7 linked regions of the Homo sapiens genome follow. The protein of the gene in region 6 purifies or fractionates together with the protein of the main gene of each other region. This does not show direct contact. Each region holds a gene or a part of one and is shown on either strand. Other genes may lie near its edges. The genes, in order: PRMT3, SEMA4B, CERK, PRDM10, ABHD18, PDCD2 and ZNF277.

Region 1 (3,500 bases), on a different chromosome or scaffold from region 6:
CTGCCTTGGCCTCCCAAAGTGTTGTGATTATAAGCATGAACCACCATGCCTGGCCCTGTTTTTTACTTTTAATTAATTAACTTTTCTAGAGACAGAGTCTTTCTCTGTTACCCAGGCTGGAGTGCAGTGGCACGATCTTGACTTACTGTAGTTTCCAACTCCTGGACTCAAGCAATCTGCTCACCACAGCTTCCCAAGTAGTTAGGACTACAGGCATGCACCACTATGCCTGGCTAATTTTTTTAAAAGAATTTTTTGTACAGACCTGTGTTGCCTAGGCTGCTCTCAAACTCCTGGGCTTAAGTGATCTTCCTGCCTTGGCCTCCCAAATGCTGGGATTATAGGTATGAGCTACCATACCCTGTTGAAATATTTTATAATGTTGTTTGATATATTTTATTGAAAACTTTTATAATATCAATATTTTTAAAATATTTTATAAGTTGATACATTTTATTAAAATTTTATTCTACATTTCAAATTGAATCAGTAATTGTAAATGACAACTTTATAGACTGCTTAGTAACAGTTACATGTTTAACCTTTGCACATAAATCTGGTTTGAAAAAGATAATACGTTAGTAAATAAGTACATATTTATCCCAATCTTTAAAAACTTTCATGAAACCTAGGATAAATGTATTGAAATTAGATTTCCTGGGCAGTACTAGAAATCTATAAGGCTAAGGAATAGTCACAAAGAGGGAAGAAACTACAAAATGAGAACCCTAAGTATGCTAGATAATCAACTAGGCTGTCTGCATATATGATTTGTATATGAAGGCTGAAGCTCTTTTCCATATTTTAGTTTTTTTATACAAATCTTTATTACATCCTGATTTTCTAGCAAATACAATTAAAAACTCCTCCTCAGAGGAGTCCATAATAAAATGTGTAGTACCTGTGTTACTAGTTTAATAAAATATCCAAATAACTAACCAATTTGTTTAAAATTTATAGTAAGAAACTTATTAAAAACAAAAGACTATCTCTCTTCCAAATATAGGCCAATGTAAATGATTTTCAATATAGATAAACTCAATGTGGGAGTTACATTTGGTTAAATCTGGTGGAGCAAACGTCTAAGAAAATGATTACGTGGCAGACCATGAGGATCAGCTGATTCTCTTCCTCAGCTGAACTATGTCAGATTCCCACAATGAGAACTTCTCTCTTATTGAGGAGGCTCATTAGGAAAGGGTCCATCATCCATCCATCTGCTCACATAAAACCAGCTCCCTCCTGCTGACCCACTCTACCCCCACATTAAAAACTACAAGGTAGTGTGCTTTTATGGCTGTTTCACTGGAGACCATAAGTTTGAGTTGAATTATTCAACGTGAGGGTCACGGTGAGAGAACGTGGATCTTTCTTATTCTTGTGAACTGTGACCTTTCCTTTCAAGGCTTCACCTGTAAAACAAAGGCAAAAATTGTTAAGAATTCAAGGAATACAGTGTAGCAGAAAAGTAAACAATGTATAACTAGCACTTCTTTTTATTGTGATGTTTTCCCACTTTTTAAACTTTATTTAAGGTTAATATTCTTTTTTTTTTTTTTTTTTTTTAAGATGGAGTCTCACTCTGTCACCCAGGCTGGAGTGCGGTGGTGTGATCTCAGCTCACTGCATTCTCCCAGGCTGGAGTGCACTGGTGCAAGCTTGGCTCACTGCAACCTCCGCCTCCTGGGTTCAAGAGATTTTCCTGCCTCAGCTTCCCGAATAGCTGGGACTACAGGCGCATGCCACCATGCCCAGCTAATTTTTTATTTTTAGTAGAGATGGGGTTTCACCATGTTGGCCAGGCTGGTCTCGAACTCCTGACCTCAGGTGATCCACCCGCCTCAGCCTCCCAAAGTGCTGGGAATACAGGAATGAGCCATTGTGCCCAGCCAATATTCATTTTTTAGAGCAGCATTATGTTTCATTAATTTTTTTTTTAAGACAGTCTCTCTCTGTTGCCCAGGCTAGAGTGCAGTGGTACAATCCCAGTTGACTGCAACCTCTGCCTCCCGTGTTCAAGTGATTTCTCCTGCCTCAGCCTCCCAAGTAGCTGGGATTACAGGCATGCGCCACCATGACCTGCTAATTTTGTATTTTTAGTAGAGACAAGGTTTTGCCATTTTGGCCAGGCTGGTCTAGAACTCCTGACCTCAGGTGATGCGCTCACCTACCTCAGCCTCCCAAAGTGCTGGGATTACAGGCGTAAGCCACTGCGCCCAGCCCTGTTTCATTAATTTTTGAATGAAGCGAGAACTAACTACATACCACAGTGTCAAATCCTTGTGAAAGTGAGTAAAACTATTGTGGTCATAAAGGGTCAATGGAAGCATTTTACTGAACTTCTAAATATGAGGCCCTATGGTGGGTTCTGGGCATCTAGAAAAAAGATATGGTCCCTGCCCTCAAAGAGTTTGTGATCAGGGTGAAGAAAAAAGCTATACTAACAATTACACAATAGGCATGTGTCTAAAGTGTGCTGGAGGTGAGCACTGGGGATGGTTGGAAGGCAGTTAAAGGCAAGGTTTCACAAGAATTAATGAATTACCCAATGCCAGGGCTGAAGTCATGGAGAACCAGGCTTAAGGGATGTACATGTAATGGTATTTAAGGAAAACACATACACAGAACCTTCAGGAATGGCATTTTGAGGAACTGAAAATTATAGCTGGGAAAATGTAGAGGCACATGACAAAGCCATTGGCCATTGATGCACTGGTGCTGTAAAAGGGAAACAATGTACCCATGTGAAACAGTGAACACACAAAAATTACTTACCTGTGCAAAGGCTGATTTCCTAAATTCTGTAGGTTCCAAATTTTTATCTATGTACTTTTCTAATTATAAATACTTCTCATTTAATTTTTCATTTATTTTAAAGAGCTGTTTAAAAAGTAACAAATTGCTAAGTTGTAGTTGATCACCATTCTTTGCTTAAATAATATTAAGATAACACCAAACAGTGTCAGGAATAGCTTTAGCATCTGCATGGACACAATGAGGCTCCATATAATGACCAAGGAAATCTACATAAAACTATTGAAGTACTGAATGAATATCGTATTTAAAAAAATACAAATTCCCCATATTCAAGGAAAATTATCTGAATGCTTTTCAAGATGGTAGTGAAATAACACAAGTAAAACATAACCACCTGTTATATTTATTTTCAGAATATAAAGATTCCATTACTGATACCTTCTCTACATCTTTGCAAAAAAGGTGAGACTCACAGTTTAACACATAATTAAGGAGTTAAATAATAGAAGAAATAATGTGGCCCAAGGTGCAATCCATTCAACAAAATATAACAATTTTTGTGTACGTATATATGTTAATGTGTATATTTGGCTTTAGCTTTTATATCTGACCTATTCCTCTATATTAAGAAAATGATATAAAACTATCTCATATGACATGTTCACCAATAGTGGACATAATAAAGATTACCAGTCAGATAGTTCTACAAACTTTATGGAGTTCAGGTTAATCATTAGATAATT
Region 2 (3,500 bases), on a different chromosome or scaffold from region 6:
CACCCACATCCATGCATGGCCTTTCCCATCCCGCCAAGGAGTACAGCTTGGCTAACAGCTTTTCTCTCTCACCTTTTAAATTAAAATATCTTACTACTTTTTTCTTTTTTTTTTTTCTTTTTATTTTTAGACAGGATCTTTGCTCTGTCACCCAGGCTGGAGTGCAGTGGCACGATCACGGTTCACTGCAGCCTCGACCTCCTGGGCTCAAGCAGTTCTCCTACCTCAGCCTCCCGAGTAGCTGAGACTACAGGTGTGCGCCCCCATGCCCAGCTAATTTTTGTATTTTTTGTAGAGATGGGGTTTTACCACGTTGCCTGGGCTGGTCTCAAACTCCTGGGCTCAAACAATCCACCCACCTCGGCTTCCCAAAGTGCTGGGATTACAGGCATGAGCCACTGCACCCAGCCATTTTTTTTCTTTTCTTTTTTTTTTTTTTACTTAAAAAATGTGAAAATAGCCGGGCATGGTGGCTCACGCCTGTAATCCCAGCACTTTGGGAGGCCAAGGTGGGTGGATCACCTGAGGTCAGGAGTTTGAGACCAACCTGGCCAACATGGTAAAACCCCATCTCTACTAATAATACAAAAGTTAGCTGGGCGTGGTGGTGCACGCCTGTAATCCTAGCTACTCAGGAGGCTGTGGCAAGAGAATCGCTTGAACCTGGGAGGTGGAGGTTGCAGTGAGCCGAGATGGTGCCACTGCACTCCAGCCTGGGTGACAGAGCAAGACTGTCTCAAAAAAAAAAATGTGAAAATAGAAAACTGTACACACAAAAATCACTTACAAGTTAAAGAGGCACTGTAGCATCAGCTGGAGAGCACAGACCCTGGAGGCCAACTGCCCAAGTTCAAACCCTGCTGGCCTAGGATCTTGGGCAAGTCCCTCACCCCCTCGGTTAACAGTTTCCTCTTCTGTTAAATAGGAAGAATAACACTGACCTCAGAGTTGTTATGTGAATTATTAATCCACGCAAAGCTCTTAGAAATGTGGTGGGCAGTGACTAAATGTGAACTATGAATGTTATTACCCCACCACCCCAGCACAAGAAGGAGTCACTGGTATCATTTTAGAATGCCCCCTCCAAATCTTTTTTTTTTTTTTTGGCATATGTGTAACTCTGTGTATATATATATATACATTTTTTTTTTTCCTTTTTGAGACAGGGTCTCACTTTGTCATCCAGGCTGGTGTGCAGCGGTGAGATTTCACTGCAACCTCCGCTGCCCAATCTCAAGCAATCCTCTCACCTCAGCCCCTCATGTAGCTGGGACTACCAGCATGCACCACCATGCCCAGCTAATTTTTTTGTATTTTTAGCAGAGACAGGGTCTCAAACTCCTGAGCTCAAGTGATCCACCCGCCTTGGCCTCCCAAAGTGCTGGAATTATAGGCATTAATAATATAAGTACCATCCCGACCTTGTACTTATATTATTAACTCACTCAGGAACATGGCATTAGGCTATATTGGGGTCCTTTGGCTTCCTTGTTTGCTCAGCAGTGAATCGCGTCCATATTTAGGAAGGCTCTGCTTAGTTACAGTAAGGACCATCCTCCTGATGGATGCGTACACTGCTCTTCCTGACTTTAGATGGAACTTGGTCCTGGCCTTCTCCTGCCCTTCAGTCCTGGTGTCTGGGGTGGGTCCATTGAGGCAGTCCTGTGCCGTGCATCCCCGTCATGGCTCAGCATGTGCCTAAGCCCAGCCCATCCGACTCTCCCTCCAGGGCGATGAGGGTGGAGAGCGGGTGCTACAGCAGCGCTGGACCTCCTTCCTCAAGGCCCAGCTGCTGTGCTCACGGCCCGACGATGGCTTCCCCTTCAACGTGCTGCAGGATGTCTTCACGCTGAGCCCCAGCCCCCAGGACTGGCGTGACACCCTTTTCTATGGGGTCTTCACTTCCCAGTGGTAGGGCCTCCAGACCTCGCTGGAGATGGAAGGGTGAAGGGTGGCTGGGACTGGGGCCCCCAGGGCTCCTGGGTTAATCTGGTTATTTCCTCTGCAGGCACAGGGGAACTACAGAAGGCTCTGCCGTCTGTGTCTTCACAATGAAGGATGTGCAGAGAGTCTTCAGCGGCCTCTACAAGGAGGTGAACCGTGAGACACAGCAGTGGTACACCGTGACCCACCCGGTGCCCACACCCCGGCCTGGAGCGGTGGGTACTGGCTCCCTGCACCCAGAAGGGGTGCCGGGAAGATGTGGGTCCCCACACCATGCTGGGAGCAAGGCTGCCTAGCCTCGGGCAGATCACTTGGCTTCTCTGAATCTCTTTTCTCATCTTTAATATGGGGATATAGGCCCAGGCCTGCTTGTGTACTGGGTTAGATATAAGTATGAATGTCAGAATATCTTCAGTTCTGTTTCAGGATACAAGTGTGTCCCCATCAGGGCACTTGCTGCAGGCTGTTACAATCATCTCTTCATTTGGTCCTCTCCCCTACTCAGCTGCAAGCTCCTTATTTAATTATCAAGTGACTGAATGGGCAAGCTGTGGGGAAATAATCCTTTCTTCCTCCCTTCTAGCCTAACGGGCTACCCTGATAGCAGACCTTGAGACAAGGATATACGTGCCAAATAGTTTATTAGGGAGGTGATGCCAGGAAGCAGCATGAAGGAATAGGAAGGTTGAGAGGAGGAGGGAGGGAAACCAAAAGAGGGTGTGTCAGCACGCTGTTGTTGCTGTGGGCAGCTGGAGCTGGGTCCTGCTGGAGCCCCTGACAGATGGTGTGGAGCACCTCTCAGAATTTCAGGAAGCCTCAGGCGGGGCAGGAAAGAACTGCCGACTGCACTGGGACGCTCTGCCCGGCCAGGGCTTCCTGAGAGCACTGGTGAAGGGTGCAGAGGAGCAGGGAGTGTGGTCCTGGTTCTTGAGGCCCCTGGGCATATGAGGCTGGGGTGGTGGGCAGGGAGGAGGCACAGCAAGGAAGCCCTCCAAGCACTCGGTTTCCCCGCACCCTGGGCTTTGTCCTTGCTCCCTCAGATGTGCACACTGGCTCTGTAGAGCACTGCCAGGGATGTGCCCTGGCTCCGGGCGGGGGGACAGACACCGCTACTGTCCACTGGGGAAGCAGGGCCCGCATCCTGCCTGCCACCCCGAGGTGTGGCTGGCCTCACACTGCTGCTTTCTCCTCCAGTGCATCACCAACAGTGCCCGGGAAAGGAAGATCAACTCATCCCTGCAGCTCCCAGACCGCGTGCTGAACTTCCTCAAGGACCACTTCCTGATGGACGGGCAGGTCCGAAGCCGCATGCTGCTGCTGCAGCCCCAGGCTCGCTACCAGCGCGTGGCTGTACACCGCGTCCCTGGCCTGCACCACACCTACGATGTCCTCTTCCTGGGCACTGGTAAGTGTCTGCAGCCCAGCAGGCTCAGGGGAAGGGGTGCACGTGGCTGGTGGGTCATGGGCAGTGGGCTCCACCCAGGGCCTGAGTCCTGTCCACACCCCAGGTGACGGCCGGCTCCACAAGGCAGTGAGCGTGGGCCCCCGGGTGCACA
Region 3 (3,500 bases), on a different chromosome or scaffold from region 6:
AACACACCACGCTCAGGCCCTCAGCTTGACTTAGCTTAACACTGTGATTTTTCAAAGAACAAGGTGGTTCCTAGAAGGATGTTGAATGGACCAAGCCGAACCAGCACTTCAGGACACAGCCCAGCTGTTCCCGGGCTCGGCTAGGTCCTGCCCTTGGTTCCGCCCCCACCTTTCCCACTCAGTCTCCTCCCAACTCCCCAGCCCGATTCCTGCCCACACCCACCCCTAACTCCCGGTTCCTTCAGGTCCAGAAGCCACTTCTTCCAGAACGCACCCCCTGCCAACCTACCCACCTGCTCCCGGGCACCGGGGGTTCCCCACTCCAGGACTGCACCCCCAGCGGTGGGGTTCTCCTGCCTTGCGTGAAGCAGCCTTTGGGGGAGTCGGGCAACTTTCCTTTCCACGAGTGTCTATTTCATTGGGGTCATACTCTCAATGATATCCCCCCAAGAGTGGCCCTAATGTTAGGAAATCTGTACGAACTAAACTGAGTATAATTGGGTTATTAAGTGTCCGAGGTGGCTACTTGTGCAGAACAATTCCTAAGGACGGGAACGAAGAGAACAGAGAATGCCAGGCCGGCTCCATACCTGCGGGAATGATTCCAATCCGGAGGCTACTGGGGACCAGCACAGCCCGGGGGTGGTTCTGGTCGACCCCGGCGCTCCTCTGCGTCCTCCCAATCAGACCGTGCAGCACCTCGCTGAACATACCATCTCCGCCGACACAGACGATGCTGCAGGAGGAACACAGCCGGTCAGGGCTCCTGCAGGTGCGGCCCTCTGAGCGCAGCAGGCCTGAGGCTTCCAGCTTCAGGAGGGGCAGCCTGCACACCTGGCCCTTGGCAGGCATCTAGAAGTGCGGCTCCTGAAATGTCCCTAAGTGATAAGGTCGTGCCTCTGTGCCAGTTGGCCTAGACCACGTGTACAAATAATGAGATTGATGGCAAATACTGGCTTTCCTTCTGTGAGTCTGGAATTTGGGTGGCTAGGCAGAGAATGCCTGCATGCCTGTACCCCCTCAAAAACACTACACTCTGGGTCTCAGGACTCAAGTTTGCGGGGCGGGAAGAGTACACCTGTGCTGCTGCATTTGTGGGAGCAGAGAGGGTGCACTCCAGGTGACCCGCACTGCGGGAGAGGCACAGCAGTCTGCGCGGGGACGTTTCTCCTTTGCTAAGCTGGCTGTGCAGCCTTGCTCTGTCCCGTCAGAAATCTCAGCCGAGAGCACGACTCTAGCTCAGGCAGCAAATCACCAGCCGTGTGGGTGGTCTTGAGGACCCAAGGCAAGAGCAGAGGGGACGGAATAAATGCGGACAAAATGGGGCATGAGACAATCTAAGGAGAGGAGATGGAGAAAGGGGACAGTGGCTGAAGGGAGAAAGGACGGGTTGGTTTCAGGGTGTGCTGTCCTATGCCGGGGGTAACCCACAGGGAACCAACACTGAGGTGGCAGAATGAGAGGTGCAGGCATGGAGACAGACATGTCACTGCAGCCCAGAGGGAAGGCAGAGGACAGGGCTCAGGTTTCCTGGACATCTCTATAGCCTACGGCAGCCCAAGAGCTCTCATCACCCGGGAAGAGAGGGTTGCAGGGGGAAGGTCCGCCGGTAGAGGAGCGGTGTGAGTCGACTAGGGGGTGCAGCCTGAGGGGCCTCCCTCAAGCATGACAGCATCAAGGTGCCTGCCCATTCCCCAGTGGGTCTGTCTGTGCAGGCGCGACCAGTCTCCAGGGCTGGGATCTCTGCCCACCACCCACCACTCAGGCCACCTGCTTTGGGCCCGGCTCCCATGGGAAGGCTCTTTGCCCTTCCCCGTAGCCTACACCTTGCACCGGGGCAGCCTTCCCAGCGGGGCTGTGGTTTCGAGGACAGGGCATCCTTGAATGGGCAGTGTAGCATCTGTGTGTTAGACAGACAGATCACTCAGACAGACAGCTCAGCCGCAGGAAGAGCAGCCCTCACTGGCCAGGCCTCCCAGCCTCCTGCACGGCATGTCCCTGGGTTTGGGGAGAAGGCGTGCCCTCAAGAGGCGAGGCTGATCCCTTGGCTAGGGTGGGTGCAATAAGGTGCCAGCCCCATCCCTGCTGAAAAGTGAAGACGACTGTCTTCCTGCCAAGCTGCTGTCGGGTGGAGGTGGTGGGAAGAAGTACATGGAGGAGCTGCCATCGGGTGGAGTTGGGGAGATGTGCATGGAGGAGCCCCCTGCTTCCTGGAGCCCATGAACAGAACACTCCCGCATTAGGAGGGGAGCAAAGGGGTCTCCCTGTCAGCACCTGGGGGCAGGGGCTCCTTTTATTTCCCTTTCTAACCTTAGCACCAGCAGAGTGCTGGGACCTGGAGGACCCTCAATAATGTTTGTGGAATGAATAATGATTTCAATAAATATCCGCTGCAATTTATAACACATTGCTCACCGACTCCAGATGGAACAGAGAGAAGAAAACAAAAAGCCAACCAATGACAAGGCAATTAACTACAGGGGAATAGCTAAACTCAAGATGAAGAGTGAAATTTTAAGCATAAAGAACAGCACAGAAGAGCTGGACAGACTTGAGTACATGAATTTGAAAACTTCTACTGGGAAGAATTAATGCCATAAGCAAAATTAAAAGACAATTTCAAAATTAGCAAAAATATTTGCAAAAATATGAATATAAATATGAATTGCCTATTATTTGTTGGATAAGAGAACAAATGACTGAAATTATGGCCAACAAAAGAAAATGGGCCAAAGACATAAAAATCAATTCCAAGAAGCCAGCTAGCCAATAAACATATTTCTTAAAATATTAGAGACTTTCACATGTCAAATTAGCAGAGAAATTTTATACTGATAATACCAAACATGTTGACAAAGACAGTAAATAATATACTATAAGAAAGAATGTAAACTGGCCGGGCGCGGTGGCTCATGCCTGTAATCCCAGCACTTTGGGAGGCTGAGGCGGGTCGCGTGGATCACCTGAGGTCAGGAGTTCGAGACCAGCCTGGCCAACATGGCGAAATCCTGTCTCTACTAAAAACACAAAAATTAGCTGGGCGTGGTGTTGGGCACCTATAATCCCAGCTACTCGGGAGGTTGAGGCAGGAGAATCATTTGGACTTGGGAGGCCGAAGCTGCCGAGGTCACGCCATTGCACTCCAGCCTGGGCAACAAGAGCGAAACTCTGCCTCAAAAACGAAAAAAAAAAAAAAGAATGTAAGTTAATAGAATCTCTTTCGAAAGCAATATGGCTGTACACGGCAGAGATTTTAAAATGTTAATCTCCTATGACTAATTTCATTTCTAGGAATTTACCTTAAAAATGTAGATGTATGCAGAGAGATTTATGTACAACAATGCTATCCTAAGAGCAAAAATTGGAAAGAGCCTGAACATCTACAAGTGAGAGGCTAAATAAATATGGCATGCCCACATAATGGACCATGATATGGGCATTAAAAATAGTAGTTCTGGGAAATCTCTAGGAATTTTGGGGAAAAGAAGAATCCCAAACTG
Region 4 (3,500 bases), on a different chromosome or scaffold from region 6:
TCTGCCTCAGCCTCCTGAGTAGCTGAGATTACAGGCATCCGCCACCAGACGTGGCTAATTTTTTTTGTGTTTTTAATAGAGATGGGGTTTCACCATGTTGGCCAGGCTGGTCTCAAACTCCTGACCTCAAGTGATCCGCCCACCTCGGCCTCCCAAAGTGCTAGGATTGCAGGCATGAGCCACCACGCCTGGCCCGCTCCACTCTCTTTCACAGGAATTACACTGAGTACAGAGGTCAGTCTATTCACCAGATTCTAGTGGTAAGAGAGTCCCTGACTGGAAACTAGACCCAGCCCTCAATGTGACGTCCAATGTTTAAGAGTATAGTTTGTGGCCGGGCACAGTGGCTCATGCCTGTAATTCCAGCACTTTGAGAGGCTGAAGTGGGCGGATCACCTGAGGTCCGGAGTTCGAGATCAGCCTGGCAAACATGGTGAAACCCCGTCTCTACTAAAAATACAAAAATTAGCTGGGCGTGGTGGCGGGTGCCTGTAATCCCAGCTACTCAAGAGGCTGAGGCAGGAGAATCACTTGAACCCGGGAGGCGGAGGTTGCAGTGAGCCGCGATTGTGCCACTGCACTCCAGCCTGGGTGACAGAGCGAGACCCCATCTCAAAAAAAAAAAAAGAATATTGATTGTAAAAATAACTAGACGGTAGAGTTTGAGCCTGACTCCATAGCAAATCTATGTAACATAGCCAAGGATCAATCATGACAAAGACGGGCCCCCAAAAATAAATCAACAGTAGAAGAAAGATCAATACCGACCCTTTCCCTTCTCAGCACCTCTTCCTCCTAGTTTCTACTACTGAGGTCTGTTAAAGTCTACTCCTATTCCTTCCACACCTTCCATGAGAAAGGTCTCATACTTCCTGGCCTGCCCCAAAGCTGTTTCCCCACCAAGGGGTTTACCTGCCCCGACCTCTGTCAGCCAGCCTGCTACTGTTTCCACAGCACGAATCTCAGGGCTTTGGAATCAACGACTCTTCTATCTCCCTCCTTTACTAGATGATGGTCAGCTGCACAGTGGGGTGGTTTAGAGTGGACACTCTGAAGCCAAACTGCCTGGGTTCCAATCCTCTGTTTACTAGCTCTTGGAAAAGTGAGTGTGTGGAAATTGCCTTATCTGTAAAATGCAAATAACAATTGTACTTATCTTATAGGTTGTTGTGAATACTGACTGTGATATATATGGTTCGGAATCATTCCTGGCAATGTAGTAAGAGCTTAATGAAAGCTGGTTAACATTATTATTGTGTGGTGTTACCGATACTAATGAGAATATTAATCTTGGCATAGCCAGTGTCTAGTACAGCGATTGATAGACAGGCATTCTACAAATATTGGTGGAAGGGATGACTCAACATAAGCTATATCCAACTATCTTACTATTTAATTTCATAGCTACATTTCCTCCAGCAATATACCTGACGTTTCGAAAATGTCCTATCAGGGTAGCTCTGTGAAAGCGGAATGCTACACCTTGAGTTTTGTCATGAAACCCATTGAAGTACATTCATAGAGAGTGTAAACAATGGCCAAGAGATACTTTAAAAATCTATCACAAGCTGAAGAAATTATGACACATGGCTGGAGATCCCCCACCCCTGACCGACACGGCATCGTCCCTTCTTACTTACAATAGCCACGGAAGGAATTCCAAGCACTGGGCAGGTACGTGTGCTGCACAGAGGAATTCTGCTGCTGCTGCTGCTGCTGCTGCAGAGCCTGCCCCTGTGTGGAAGAACTGCCCTGGATGTGGGAGGGGCTGAGCCCCTGCTGAGCCTGCTGGGCTGAGGGACTCAACGGCTGCCCAGATACCTGGGGAGAAAGAGAAAGCAATGGTAGGGAATTACGAGCTTCTAATATAGTGAAGACTCACAAATAACTGAAGGAAGTACACCAGACTCATATGAATTATAATACTGAAACTATCGTTGCTATTTTTTTTTTCTTTTGAGATGGAGTTTCACTCTTATTGCCCAGGCTGGAGTGCAACGGCATGATCTCGGCTCACCGCAACCTCCGCCTCCTGAGTTCAAGTGATTCTCCTGCCTCAGCCTCGCGAGTAGCTAGGATTACAGGCATGTGCCAACCCACCCAGCTAATTTTGTATTTTTAGTAGAGAAGGGGTTTCTCCAGGTTGGTCAGGCTGGTCTCGAACTCCCGACCTCAGGTGATCCACCCGCCTCGGCCTCCCAAAGTGCTGGGATTACAGGCATGAGACACAACGCCTGGCCTATCATTGCTATTATTAAAAGTAATATTTTAAATAAGAATAAACTCAATGAAAAGCAAGCATAACTATGAAATTCTAATTTGCTTTCAAAGGATTCTCTACCAGAGTATGCAAAAAAATTAATTTCAATCAACTGTTGGAAAGATAAATGAAAGAAAATATAATTACCTACATTCTATAAGTTTAAAAATAATGGGAGGTGAAGTAACTTGCCTGTGTCACAAAGCTAATCTGGAACACAAAATGAAATGAAACCCAAAGTTCATCGTTTCCATTCACCAGTACTGGCAAATCCCACCTGGCTGGTGGAGTTCAGCACAGGTGGGTGAAGAGGCCCACTCCTGATAACAGGATGAGGCCAGCGCTCTCCAGCCTGCCACACTGCAATCCTGCTCCAAACTACCCTCCCAACTTCCTTTCCAAACATCATTTCCTGTGAGTAATCTAAACAGAATAACCCTGTTTTCTATAAATGTACATTTTCCATTGCAGCATGAGCTTCTTCAGATCAGACTGCCTTCCCCAACGACTATGTCAGAACTGTACCCCTCCTTCAAGACCTCAAAGACCACTTCTTCTAAAAAATGTCCTGGATTCCCTCCTAAACCTAATCTCTCCCTCTCTGAACTCTGAGAACTTATCTATGTATCTCAATTCCAGACTCAAGCATACAAACACAGTAACATAAAATATACCATAATACTCCAGAAAGCCACTGTTCCAAATCATAGAAGCCACTTAGCCATTGCATTTAGAATGAAAGCAAAGACCACTGTTGTTTCTAGGATGTCGTACCACAGGACTCTATGAGGGCAGAAGCAGCTAACAGCTTAATATGTGTCCACAATGCCAATATAAAAATTGGAGGCAAAGGTAAGATCCTTTAATAAAAATCCAAAAATAACAGTAGCTGAGGAGACTAGGTCTGAAGAGAATGTCTTCCCTCTCATTAACTCTGATAATCCCTGAAGCCATGATAACACCTCCAAATAGTCTGTGGAGCAGGGTACCTGGGCGGAGGACGGGGCCGAGGCGGTAGGCTCGCTGACCTGGATGTGCTGCACCTGGATGGCGTGCTGGGGGTAGGGCTGAGGATCATGGAGCTGGCCAACATCCACAGTGGACTGCTGTGACTGGTGAGGGGAAGTGGCCTGGAAGGAGAAAAAACAGGCCCAGAAACCAGACATATATTGATTGAAGTTAAGGGAAATCCTTCCAGAGAAAAGGTTCAGTTAAAAACAATATCCTGGCCGGGTGCAGT
Region 5 (3,500 bases), on a different chromosome or scaffold from region 6:
ATAAAGTGTAAGTCATTTATCTTAGTCGTGAGTTAAATTTTAATACATCTTTGTTTTTTAAAAAAGTCATGGTAAATATATACAACATAAAATTTACTATCATAACCATTTTTAAGTGCATAGTTCAGTGGCATTAAGTATATACATGTTGTGCAACCATCACCACCATCTATCTCCAAAACATTTTTATCTTCTCAAACTGAAACTTACCCATTGAACAAAACTATTCATTCCTCCCTTCTCCCAGTCTCTGGCAACTGCCATTCTCTTTCCATCGCTATGAATTTTACTACTATAGGGACCTCATACAAGTGGAATCATACAATATTTGTCCTTTTGTGTCTGGCTTATTCACTTAAGATAATGTCTTCAGTGTTCATCCATGTTGTGGCATGTGTCAGAATTTCATTCCTTTTAAGACTGCATAATGTTTAATTGTTTGAATATACTACATTTTATTTATCCATTTATTCATTGATGGACATTTGTCTTTTCTCTTTTTTTTTTGACAAAGCTGTTAATACCCTATTTTATATTAAATAATGTTTTCTTTCCTTTCATATGTTCAGACAGATTCTTTCAAAATGGGACAAGAGTTTGTGAAACACTTCACTAGCAGTGCAGACAAGCTAACTAACCTTAATCTGGTTTCCAGAACTTTAAATTTAGATATATCAAACCAAGTTGTATCCCAAAAACCTGCTGACTGCCATAATTCTAGCAAAACATCTGTCAGTGCGACATCAGAAGGACTCTTATTGCAAGATACCTCTAAGATGAAGCGCTTCAATCAAACACTTTCAACCAACAAAAGTGGTTATACAAGTCGCAACCCTCAGTCATACCACCTACTTAGTAAAGAACAAAGCAGAAACAGTCTTCGGAAAGAGTCTTTAATATTTATGAAAGGAGTCATGGATGAATGTACTCATGTAGCAAATTTCTCAGGTACTAATTTTTATATGAAATTGAGAATATTTGCTGATGTGTAAGTATTTGTGAAATATTTTAAAAGATGCTCTATAAGATAATTTTATATTTTCAAGGGTATATTTTTTTGTTGGCTCCAGAATATGTTTGCAAAGATAAGTTGGTTACTTAAATGTATCATATTCTATCTATGAAAATTTAAGATTATCTTATTCATTAAGAAACACACTGGACAGCCGGGTGTGGTTGCTCATGCCTGTAATCCCAGCATTTTGGGAGGCTGAGGCAGGTGGATTGCTTGAGCCCAGGAGTTCAAGACCAGCCTGGGTAACATGGTAAAACCCTGTCTCTACCAAAAAAAAAAATACAAAAAAGTAGTCATGTGTGGTGTTGCAAGCCTGTAGTTCCAGCTACTTGGGAGGCTGAAGTGGAAGGATCGCTTCAGCCCAAGGAGTTGGAGGTTGCAGTGAGCCAAGATCACACCACTGCACTCCATCCTGGGTGACAGCAAGACTCTCACACACACACACAAACACACATACACACACTCTCACACACTCTGGAGCTGGACACAGTGGCTCACGCCTATAATCCTAGCACTTTGGGAGGCTGCGGTGGGAGGACCGCTTGAGCCCAGGAGTTTGACACCAGCCCGGGCAACATAGTGAGACCCTGTCCTTATCAAAAATGTAAAAATTAGCTGGGTGGCCGGGCCCAGTGGATCACGCCTGTAATCCCAGTGCTTTGGGAGGCCAAGGCGGGTGGATCACTTGAGGTCAGGAGTTTGAGACCATCCTGGCCAACATGGTGAAACCTCATCTCTACCAAAAATATAAAAAATTAGTTGGGCGTAATGGTGTGTGCCTGTAATCCCAGCTACTCAGGAGGCTGAGGCAGGAGAATCATTTGAACCCGGGAGGTGGAGGTTGCAGTGAGCAGAGATCATGCCACTGCACTCAGCCTGAGTGACAGAGTGAGACTCCATCTCAAAAACAAAAATAAATTAGCTGGGTGTGGTGGCATATGCTTATAGTCCCATCTACTCAGAGGCTGAGGCAGGAGGATCCCTTGAGCCCAGGAATTCAAGGTGGCACTGAGCTATGATTGCACCACTGCACCCTAGCCTCGGTGACAAAGTGAAACTCTTATCTCCCAAAAGAAAAACACTGGATTGCTGAGTGTGGTGGCATTCACCTGTAGTCCCAGCTACTCAGGAAGTTAAGGAGGGAGGATCACTTGAGCCCAGGAGTTCAAGGCTGTAGTGCACTATGATCTTGCCAATGAATAGCCACTGCATTTCAGCCTGGGCAATACAGTGAGATCCCATCTTTAAAATAAATGATTGAGGCGATGCATACCTTACGTACTCTGATGTGATTATTATGCATTGCATGCCCGTATCAAAATATCTCATGTAACCCATAAATATATACACCTACTGTGTACCCACACCCACACAAAAGAAATAAATTAGTTAATTTTTAAAAACCACAGTATTTTGTATCATTTTTAGAATATTTATCTCGTACTGGAGATGAGTAAGGTAGCATATTATAGTTGATTTTTAATTTAATCAAAAATGTTTAGTTTGACGAATGTTTTATTTACTGCATTGTGTGGGTTTTTTTATTTTCTAATGTGTATATGTTGAATTTTTAAAAATCCTATACCTAGTCCCAGTTGATCCAAGCCTCATTATAGTGGTTCAAGCCAAAGAAGATGCCTATATTCCACGAACAGGAGTTCGAAGTTTACAAGAAATTTGGCCTGGTTGTGAAATCCGATACTTAGAAGGGGGTCATATTAGTGCTTATCTTTTTAAACAAGGACTCTTCAGGTAAGACGGCTGGTCTAAACATGTATTCGTTCATTTGTTGTTTGTTTTCTGGATTTTTTGCTTCAACAAATGTAAAAGATCACATATTTTTATAGTCTGTTTCAATCTTTGAATTCCCTCCTCACCTCCCACAAATCTCACAGAGTTACTTTTCCCTCTTTCCTAGAATTTGATCTTCTTATTTTCTTCTAGAGAACTAAGCATGATGCATATTATAGGCATGCTTTATCGTGTGGCTTTCCCCTCTTCAAATATTAATGGCCAGGTATTTTAGGATGTGAGAAGGAAGATCATGGCTTGTTAAAGTTGCTTTGGTGCATCAAGAGTTTTTTCACTCTATTCTGATGTTTTTTCAGAATGGCCTGAACATCTGTGGAATAATTTAGCAATGTTTTTCAGTTAGCAAGTGAATATTGAACCTTAAATAAGAAGTGCTTTTAATGTGAACAACCTTATATGACTCCACTATTTTAGTTAGAACTTATAAAAACTTTTATGCTGGCTGGGCGCGGTGGCTTACGCCTGTAATCCCAGCACTTTGGGAGGCGGAGGCGGGTGTATCACGAGGTCAGGAGATCAAGGCCATCCTGGCTAACACGGTGAAACCCCGTCTCTAGTAAAAATACAAAAAAAAAAAAAAAAAAGTAGCCGGGCATAGGTGGTGCATGTCTGTAGTCCCAGCTACTTGGGAAGCTGAGGCAGGAGAATGGCATAAAACCCGGGAGGCGGAGCT
Region 6 (3,421 bases):
TGTTGATTGTGTCTACGTACCATTTCTCTCTAAAAGGAACTCCAGGCTCTTTGGAGAGGTGGTTGATTCCAGAACTAGGTCAGGAAACGTTCATATAATGTGGGAACATGGTCATATCAAAGATTAAGGATAAGGATTACTAGGGCCATGTCAGAACTCAAGCAACATGAAAAGGCTCCTGCTTGCAAAAGATGGACAGTTTGAACATCCACAAGGACGCTAACTGCATCAGATATGTTTAATGGGTTCAAAATGATACTTTAAAAAAACTCAGTAATCATCTTTATAGGATACTTGGGAACAGACTCATTTTCAAATTGGTAAATAAAAGGAAAGAGTTTGCCTTCGAGGGGTACATAACTTAATTATGAATGAAGTGATATGTGTGGAATTTACTTCAGAGTAATGGAGGTGGAAGTGGCAGAGAAAGGAAACACTGGACTTGATAGTGTTGAAACTGATTAATGATATGTGGCGGTTCATTATAGTATTTCCACTTTTCTGTATGTCCAAAATTTTCTAAAATAAAAGGAGAATTGAATAGAAAAATGCTTCCTGGAGGTAGCTGTGTCTTACCTGAGACTTGGCAGGAGGCAGTAGGGCCTGAGGGAACAGCATTTACAGTGTCCTAACGGTTATACTGAAACTTTCCACGTATACTTGATGGAACATCAATCTGAAGGCATCCTACACTTCCTCCATCAGACCTGATGGTGCAAGTGAACACCATCAGTGCCTTTCCAGTTTCATCAAAGCAGTTATTTTAGCTTCTCTGACCCAAGGTATATCAGTTCTATTTTAACGTACATTACAAAGACTAATGGTTATACTTAGAGACACGGGTCTGTTGGGGACAGCAGTGGCTTAGGGTGGCTGTAATCCCAGGAAGGAATGTGGAGAAGGAAATGAACATTTTTTTTTTTGAGACGGAGTCTCACTCTGTCGCCCAGGCTGGAGTGCAATGTCACCATCTCGGTTCACTGCAGCCTCTGCCTCCCAGGTTCAAGTGACTCTCCTGCCTCAGCCTCCCGAGTAGCTGGGATTACAGGCACCTACCACCACGTCTGGCTAATTTTTATATTTTTAGTAGATACGGGATTTCACCATGTTGGCCAGGCTGGTCTTGAACTCCTGACCTCAGGTGATCTGCCCGCCTCGGCCTCCCAAAGTACTGGGATTACAGGCGTGAGCCACTGCTCCAGGCCAGAAATGAACACTTGATGACTGAGTGAGTGAGCCTACCAGCTGAGGATACTAATGATAAGGGCTCACATTTGTTGGGTGTCCTGTGATGTGCTGGGCAGTCCTAAGCCCTTGACCATTCTGTTATTTTGAAGCTTTAAGGAGATGCACTAAATGGAAGTCCATATAATAGAGTTGGATGGAGTACCTGGAAATTCAGATGGTCCAACTTGAATGAGTGAATAAATAGGGAAAGCTATCTGATTAAAAGTGGGTCCCCTCTCCATGTGTGAATTGTCAAGTTGTGGGGATTACTCCTGTTTTTCATAATAGTTACGTTGATTTTTCAGGTGAAGCACTTGAGGAAGAACTGGATTCCATGGCAAAACATGAATCCAGGGAAGATAAAATTTTTCAGAAGTTTAAAACTCAGATAGCCCTTGAACCAGAACAGGTAAAGTGGAGCTCATAGCTCCTCATCGTGTTCTCTTCAGGCCATGTTTTATGAGTATAATCTGTAAGAAATAACTTCATAGTAACATTAGTCTGTTCCTTAGGAGCCTATAAAAGCAGGCTTTTGTTATCTTGTTAGAGGAGTTCCTCACACAGATGGGCCATGTAGAAAGGTGTTTTGCAGTGCTGATCCATTTAATAGTTACTAAAAGACTAAAGGTTATACTGTTTATCATACAGGGTTCATTTTCTAAAGCAAGCATCAGGGATGGGAGATGAATGAGATGTTGCCTAAGGTACATGAGGTTTAGGCACCATTGGCCCCCCCGCCAGAAAGAAAAAAGGTTATTTTTGCCCATTTCCAACAGGTAACTTTGGCTTGTAAAATGTGACATGTTAACATTTTTCTCCTTAACCTCCCCTACCATAAACGTAAATCACGAAAGAAAACTAAACTCCCATAAACCAGTCACTGGTTCAAATAAATACACAGGAAGAATAGATCTAGGTCTTAAACACTAAGGCAGTTTTTAGCAATGCATATGCTTTTAGACAAAATACAGAAAACCACTCAGTTGCTGTAGGAAGCTTATTACAGTGAAATTTACTTATGTTTGTAGTAGTTTTCAAAACACTATGTTTCACTTGGTATTTGTCCCTCCTAAAATTTTTTAACTATGAAGGTAGGCACAGACTCTGGGCAGAATTCTGCAATTAGAGCAGAGGCTCATTCTTAGTCCCTTCACAATATATTCATAGGATTAAGTTGCCAACATTAGGTAGTAAAAGCATCATCTGGGAGATATATTTTGATGCCCTCTGAGTCAGATAAACTGAAATAATCACTTTGAGGTGATTGAGAAGGCATTAGTGGCACACTGGTACAGCCAGGTCTGATGGGGGAACTGTGACATGCCTTTTGGGTCAGTGCTACATCAAGAGTAGGAACATTCATGGAGTAGATAGCATGTTACCATTGGCAACTTATAGGTAAGGTATTGATTATTTGAACATGATCTTCATTGATTTTAGATTCTTAGATATGGCAGAGGTATTGCCCCCATCTGGATTTCTGGTGAAAATATTCCTCAAGAAAAGGATATTCCAGATTGCCCCTGTGGTGCCAAGAGAATATTGGAATTCCAGGTATGACCTTAAATAAGGACCATTTAGTGTGTAATCACCATGATTGTTTTTAAACATTAAAAACTTCACCAAGGTAATTTGTGCACATGGGTCAACATGGCAGTATGGAAGGGTACCCTATAATGAAAATCATCAGTTTCCTGCCTCACCTTGGGGCTAGTTCCCTGGAAGGAACTGTCTTGTTTTTTTCTGTTTCCTAGTTTTCAGACACGGTCTATTGACTGACTTCTGTGACAATGAGGATATCTACACTGCTCTCCACCTCCAGTGTGGTTATGTCATTATTATTAGTGCCTCTGTTAACTTTTGTTATTTTAAATAATGTATACCTTCCTTTCTTGTTCTAGTAATTAAAGTCTTTGACTATATACTTTATGAGAGGAGTCTTTACTGTTTAATCTTGGTTTGTGGATTTGTTAGAAAAAATGGATATAAGCATTAAAGATAAATGTCCTTCCCTGCCCAAAAGGATTTGTTAGCATCAAAATCCATTTGGGTAGGGTGGAAATGCTCTTGAGCTATGGATTCACTAACCTTACCAAAGTCATAGCTAATATTGGTTTGTTTCTTTGGGTAAAAAAGGAATTATGAGGACCATACACAAAACTCTGCTTGGTTCTTAGTGCCAAAGCTCTCAATG
Region 7 (3,500 bases), on a different chromosome or scaffold from region 6:
TCAAAGCATACAGTTTAGATGTATCTTCACTGATGATGGGAACATTTTCATTTTGTTCCTGAGCTGTCAGGTCACTTTCACTGTCAGATAGTGTACACAGGAGAGTGTCATTTTCATAGGTTGGAAAATAATACCTGAAAACAACCACAGATACATAGTATTAAATTACCAAGCTAATACAGTGTCCAGGTAGCTGAATGTACACATTTACTATAATTTTGTCAGGTATCCTTGCCAACAATTTCATAGCATTTTGCAAAGGCTATACTGGAGACAACTTCTGATTGCTTTCACTTTGACTTTTACTGGCTGACATCAACCTTACCAAATCTACTATCCAGATTTGGTAAACCAAGATCGTGGACCTCCCACCCTCCAGAGTTGCCTCTGGAGTTGTCCGCTGGCCACTTAGCCTCTGCTTGATCATCTATCATGATAACAAAACACACTATCTTCGAAGGTAGCTGACCCCAGTAGTGGGTAGATCTAGTTGTTTGATACACCTCCTGTGAAGCTAAAAATGACATCTTTCTCATTTCTACTCAAAGGTCCTAGTTCTTCCTTATAAGTTAACAAACTTCAAATATAGTTAATTTTTCAAACACAAATTATTCAAATAATTGAGAATAATAAGCTCTTCCTTGTGTTTTGTTTTCCAGCCTAATAGTTCCTTCTTTCTAGGTAATCACAAAAGGAAACACTTACGGAATATAAAGTTTGTTATTCTGGTTCCTTCTCTGAATACATTTTGAAGTTACTTTTGGAATATTACAAATTTTAATTTATATAAGAAGGATCATAAAAACAGGGTACCCTCACAAGTGTGGGATTTTCTGAAGGAGAAAAACTAGAACTTTCTGGTTAAAGTTCTGGGGGAACTGACTTAACATTCCCTAAGAACAGAAGGAGCTCTGGGCAGCTAGAACCCCACAGTCTCTCAGAGGAGCCCTCGACTGAGGTTATCCAGAACGATGTGAGAACCAGTCCAGAAGGTTCTTGGCAAAGGATACTTGGGAACCAGTCCACAAAGTTCTGGCAAAGGATACATGGGAATCCAACAACAGATGACCAACTGCTTAATTTTTTCAAGTGCCAATATACAAAATATATACAAAAAGTCCTAGCAGTGTGCAAACTCTGACATAGTAATTTTATTTCTAGGAGTTCAGCTTAATTAAATAATTAGATAAGTGTGCTAAAATGTAGGCATATAGATTCACTGTATCATTATAATAGCAAAAAGTAAGAAACAACCTAAGTATCTCGCAGAATAGATTATATCCATACAATGGATATTTAGCAACCATTAGAAAGGATGCAACAGATGGATACTGGCTATTGAAAGATATTTACAATATTTTGTTAATAAAATATAATTTAAAAAATCTGTATCTACTTCATCTCTCTACATATGTATCTATCTCCATATCACAAATACTGAAAAATACTTGGTTTCATTTGTAAGAGGGGGATTATTTTAAAAATAAGCATTTTGAATATTTTTACATTTTTCCCCACACTGTACTGATGTATACTTTTTATAATAAATATGTATTCCTTTTTTTTCTGTAGGCTTAAAGAAATTAAATAAAGGGACAAAATCAAAGAGTTGGAGTAAGAAGTGCACATTTGGTTTTGCAGTACGTACTCCAGTTGATCCCACGTCTTTCTATCGGGGAGCAGCGAAGTGTGTTTAGTTTCTTCCATGTGAGTTCTTAAGTCTGCTTTGGATTTGAACTTCACATGGCAGCCATAACATCTGCATTGGTGAACTTGCCTCCGAATAAAATTGACCAGTTTCACTTGCTGATAGAAATTTAATCCTGAAAATGACAAAATACAGAATCATTAGACAACTGTTCAGACCCATTTTTTGCACTATTATAATTTCTTAAAGGAGCCACTTATTTTTATTAATCAACCTGAAGAGGCAGTACAATTATAAAGCATAATAATAGATACCAAATAATAACAGCACATATTTACACAGGGCTTATGAGCTAGGCACTATTCTAATAATTTTCCATGTATTAATACATTTAATCTTCATAAAACCCTATCAGATAGGTAGTATCATACCTACATTACATATTAGGAAACTGCCTAGCATCGCATAGATAGCTGTCAGCTGCAAAGCCCATGCTTGACTACTAAGCTAATTATATAAACAATGTATATATATGTCTATAAAAGCAGCAAAGTAACACATCCAAGGACCTAGGAAAGCAGTGACTGAGCTGAGCTGTGAGAAGTAAGTTTTTTACTGTCTTAGATCTATTAGCAAGTCAGTACTTTACGTATGTCTTAATGCCCCAAATCGTTCTATTGTTGTGATACTTAGAATGATACATTGGGTACACCTATAACAAACAATCCTAGCTATACTGCTAAGCAGTGCAGTAGCCATTTACCATACATTATTCACTCCTCATAACATTTTTCTGACCTGAGGCCCAATGTCATAGCCAGTAAGTGCCAGAGCTGGAATCTGAACTCTAGTTTGACTTAAAAATCCATATTCCACTAGCCCCCTCCAATTTATGATATATTATTAACCACTAACTTATATTTCACTTGAAGCACTCATATATGTAGGAAAGAGAAAGAAGGAGTATATGAAACCAAAAACCATATTTGACTATTATGGTTGAGCATCACTGCTTCACAGAGAGTTCTGTCAAGACCATCTATAGAGAGACATGTTTTGGTGGTGCACTCTCCAATCATAGCTACTGAACATAGGCATAGCTTACAGGATGGTTTATAAAAAATGAAGCATCACAGAAAAAAACCTCTGAATCAAACTTACCAAGTTCTGACTTTATTTTGAGAAGATCAAATTCGTGTGCATCCTAAAAAAGGAATGAATACATCTGTAAGCATATGAATTATTTAATCTTTCAGGCTGAAGTTATAAACAACTTATTCACAGGAGTTTGAGTAGTTTAGAAACTCAGTCTGAGTTCGGTATCTTCTGCTTTTGAAGTCTTCCAAGTCTAACTACTTCCCTCCATACCCAACTTTTTTACAGCATAGTCCAAACAAGTCATGTCAATCAGTTAAACCATTATAATTGGGCCGGGCGCGGTGGCTCACGCCTATAATCCCAGCACTTTGGGAGACCGAGGTGGGCGGATCACCCGAGGTCAGGAGTTTGAGACCAGCCTGGCCAACATGGCAAAACCCCGTCTCTACTAAAAATACAAAAATTGGCTGGGTGTGGTGGTGGGTGCCTGTAATCCCAGCTACTCAGAAGGCTGAGGCACGAGAATCGCTTGAACCTAGCAGGCAGAGGTTGCAGTGAGCTGAGATCGTGACACTGCACTCCAGCCTGGGTGACACAGCGAGACTCCATATCAAAGAACAGCAACAACATTATAATTGCTCATAGCTTATATCTATAGTTTTTATAATTTACAATGTTATCCATTTTGTAGCCTTCTAAAAATGTAGAAGTCTATGTATGCATTCTGCAGTGTGATAAAAGTGTAGGTAAGATA

What was found.
Region 1: the proteins of PDCD2 (region 6) and PRMT3 purify together in Homo sapiens (affinity purification with mass spectrometry; one large-scale study listed by BioGRID and IntAct). This does not show direct contact.
Region 2: the proteins of PDCD2 (region 6) and SEMA4B purify together in Homo sapiens (affinity purification with mass spectrometry; one large-scale study listed by BioGRID and IntAct). This does not show direct contact.
Region 3: the proteins of PDCD2 (region 6) and CERK purify together in Homo sapiens (affinity purification with mass spectrometry; one large-scale study listed by BioGRID and IntAct). This does not show direct contact.
Region 4: the proteins of PDCD2 (region 6) and PRDM10 purify together in Homo sapiens (affinity purification with mass spectrometry; one large-scale study listed by BioGRID and IntAct). This does not show direct contact.
Region 5: the proteins of PDCD2 (region 6) and ABHD18 purify together in Homo sapiens (affinity purification with mass spectrometry; one large-scale study listed by BioGRID and IntAct). This does not show direct contact.
Region 7: the proteins of PDCD2 (region 6) and ZNF277 purify together in Homo sapiens (affinity purification with mass spectrometry; one large-scale study listed by BioGRID and IntAct). This does not show direct contact.

Annotation. Positions count from the first base shown.
Region 1 is NC_000011.10:20,506,216-20,509,715, reverse strand, and holds the end of PRMT3 (protein arginine N-methyltransferase 3), read right to left. Parts: intron 1,413-3,500; coding exon 1,303-1,412; 3' UTR 378-1,302; downstream 1-377. UniProt on the Homo sapiens protein: Protein-arginine N-methyltransferase that catalyzes both the monomethylation and asymmetric dimethylation of the guanidino nitrogens of arginine residues in target proteins, and therefore falls into the group of type I methyltransferases.
Region 2 is NC_000015.10:90,221,830-90,225,329, forward strand, and holds part of SEMA4B (semaphorin-4B isoform 1 precursor), read left to right. Parts: intron 1-1,729; coding exon 1,730-1,911; intron 1,912-2,008; coding exon 2,009-2,159; intron 2,160-3,138; coding exon 3,139-3,349; intron 3,350-3,452; coding exon 3,453-3,500. UniProt on the Homo sapiens protein: Inhibits axonal extension by providing local signals to specify territories inaccessible for growing axons.
Region 3 is NC_000022.11:46,707,253-46,710,752, forward strand, and holds part of CERK (ceramide kinase), read right to left. Parts: intron 737-3,500; coding exon 591-736; intron 1-590. UniProt on the Homo sapiens protein: Catalyzes specifically the phosphorylation of ceramide to form ceramide 1-phosphate.
Region 4 is NC_000011.10:129,908,836-129,912,335, forward strand, and holds part of PRDM10 (PR domain zinc finger protein 10), read right to left. Parts: intron 3,391-3,500; coding exon 3,250-3,390; intron 1,822-3,249; coding exon 1,641-1,821; intron 1-1,640.
Region 5 is NC_000004.12:128,027,906-128,031,405, forward strand, and holds part of ABHD18 (protein ABHD18), read left to right. Parts: intron 1-569; coding exon 570-948; intron 949-2,604; coding exon 2,605-2,767; coding exon of another isoform or gene 2,768-2,771; exon of another isoform or gene 2,772-3,500.
Region 6 is NC_000006.12:170,578,217-170,581,637, reverse strand, and holds part of PDCD2 (programmed cell death protein 2), read left to right. Parts: exon of another isoform or gene 1-549; intron 550-1,532; coding exon 1,533-1,636; intron 1,637-2,667; coding exon 2,668-2,781; exon of another isoform or gene 2,782-2,858; intron 2,859-2,981; coding exon of another isoform or gene 2,982-3,002; exon of another isoform or gene 3,003-3,156; intron 3,157-3,421.
Region 7 is NC_000007.14:112,339,195-112,342,694, reverse strand, and holds part of ZNF277 (zinc finger protein 277), read right to left. Parts: intron 2,853-3,500; coding exon 2,810-2,852; intron 1,824-2,809; coding exon 1,649-1,823; intron 1,641-1,648; exon of another isoform or gene 1,573-1,640; intron 135-1,572; coding exon 1-134. UniProt on the Homo sapiens protein: Probable transcription factor. Involved in modulation of cellular senescence; represses transcription of the tumor suppressor gene INK4A/ARF, perhaps acting via the Polycomb group (PcG) complex PRC1.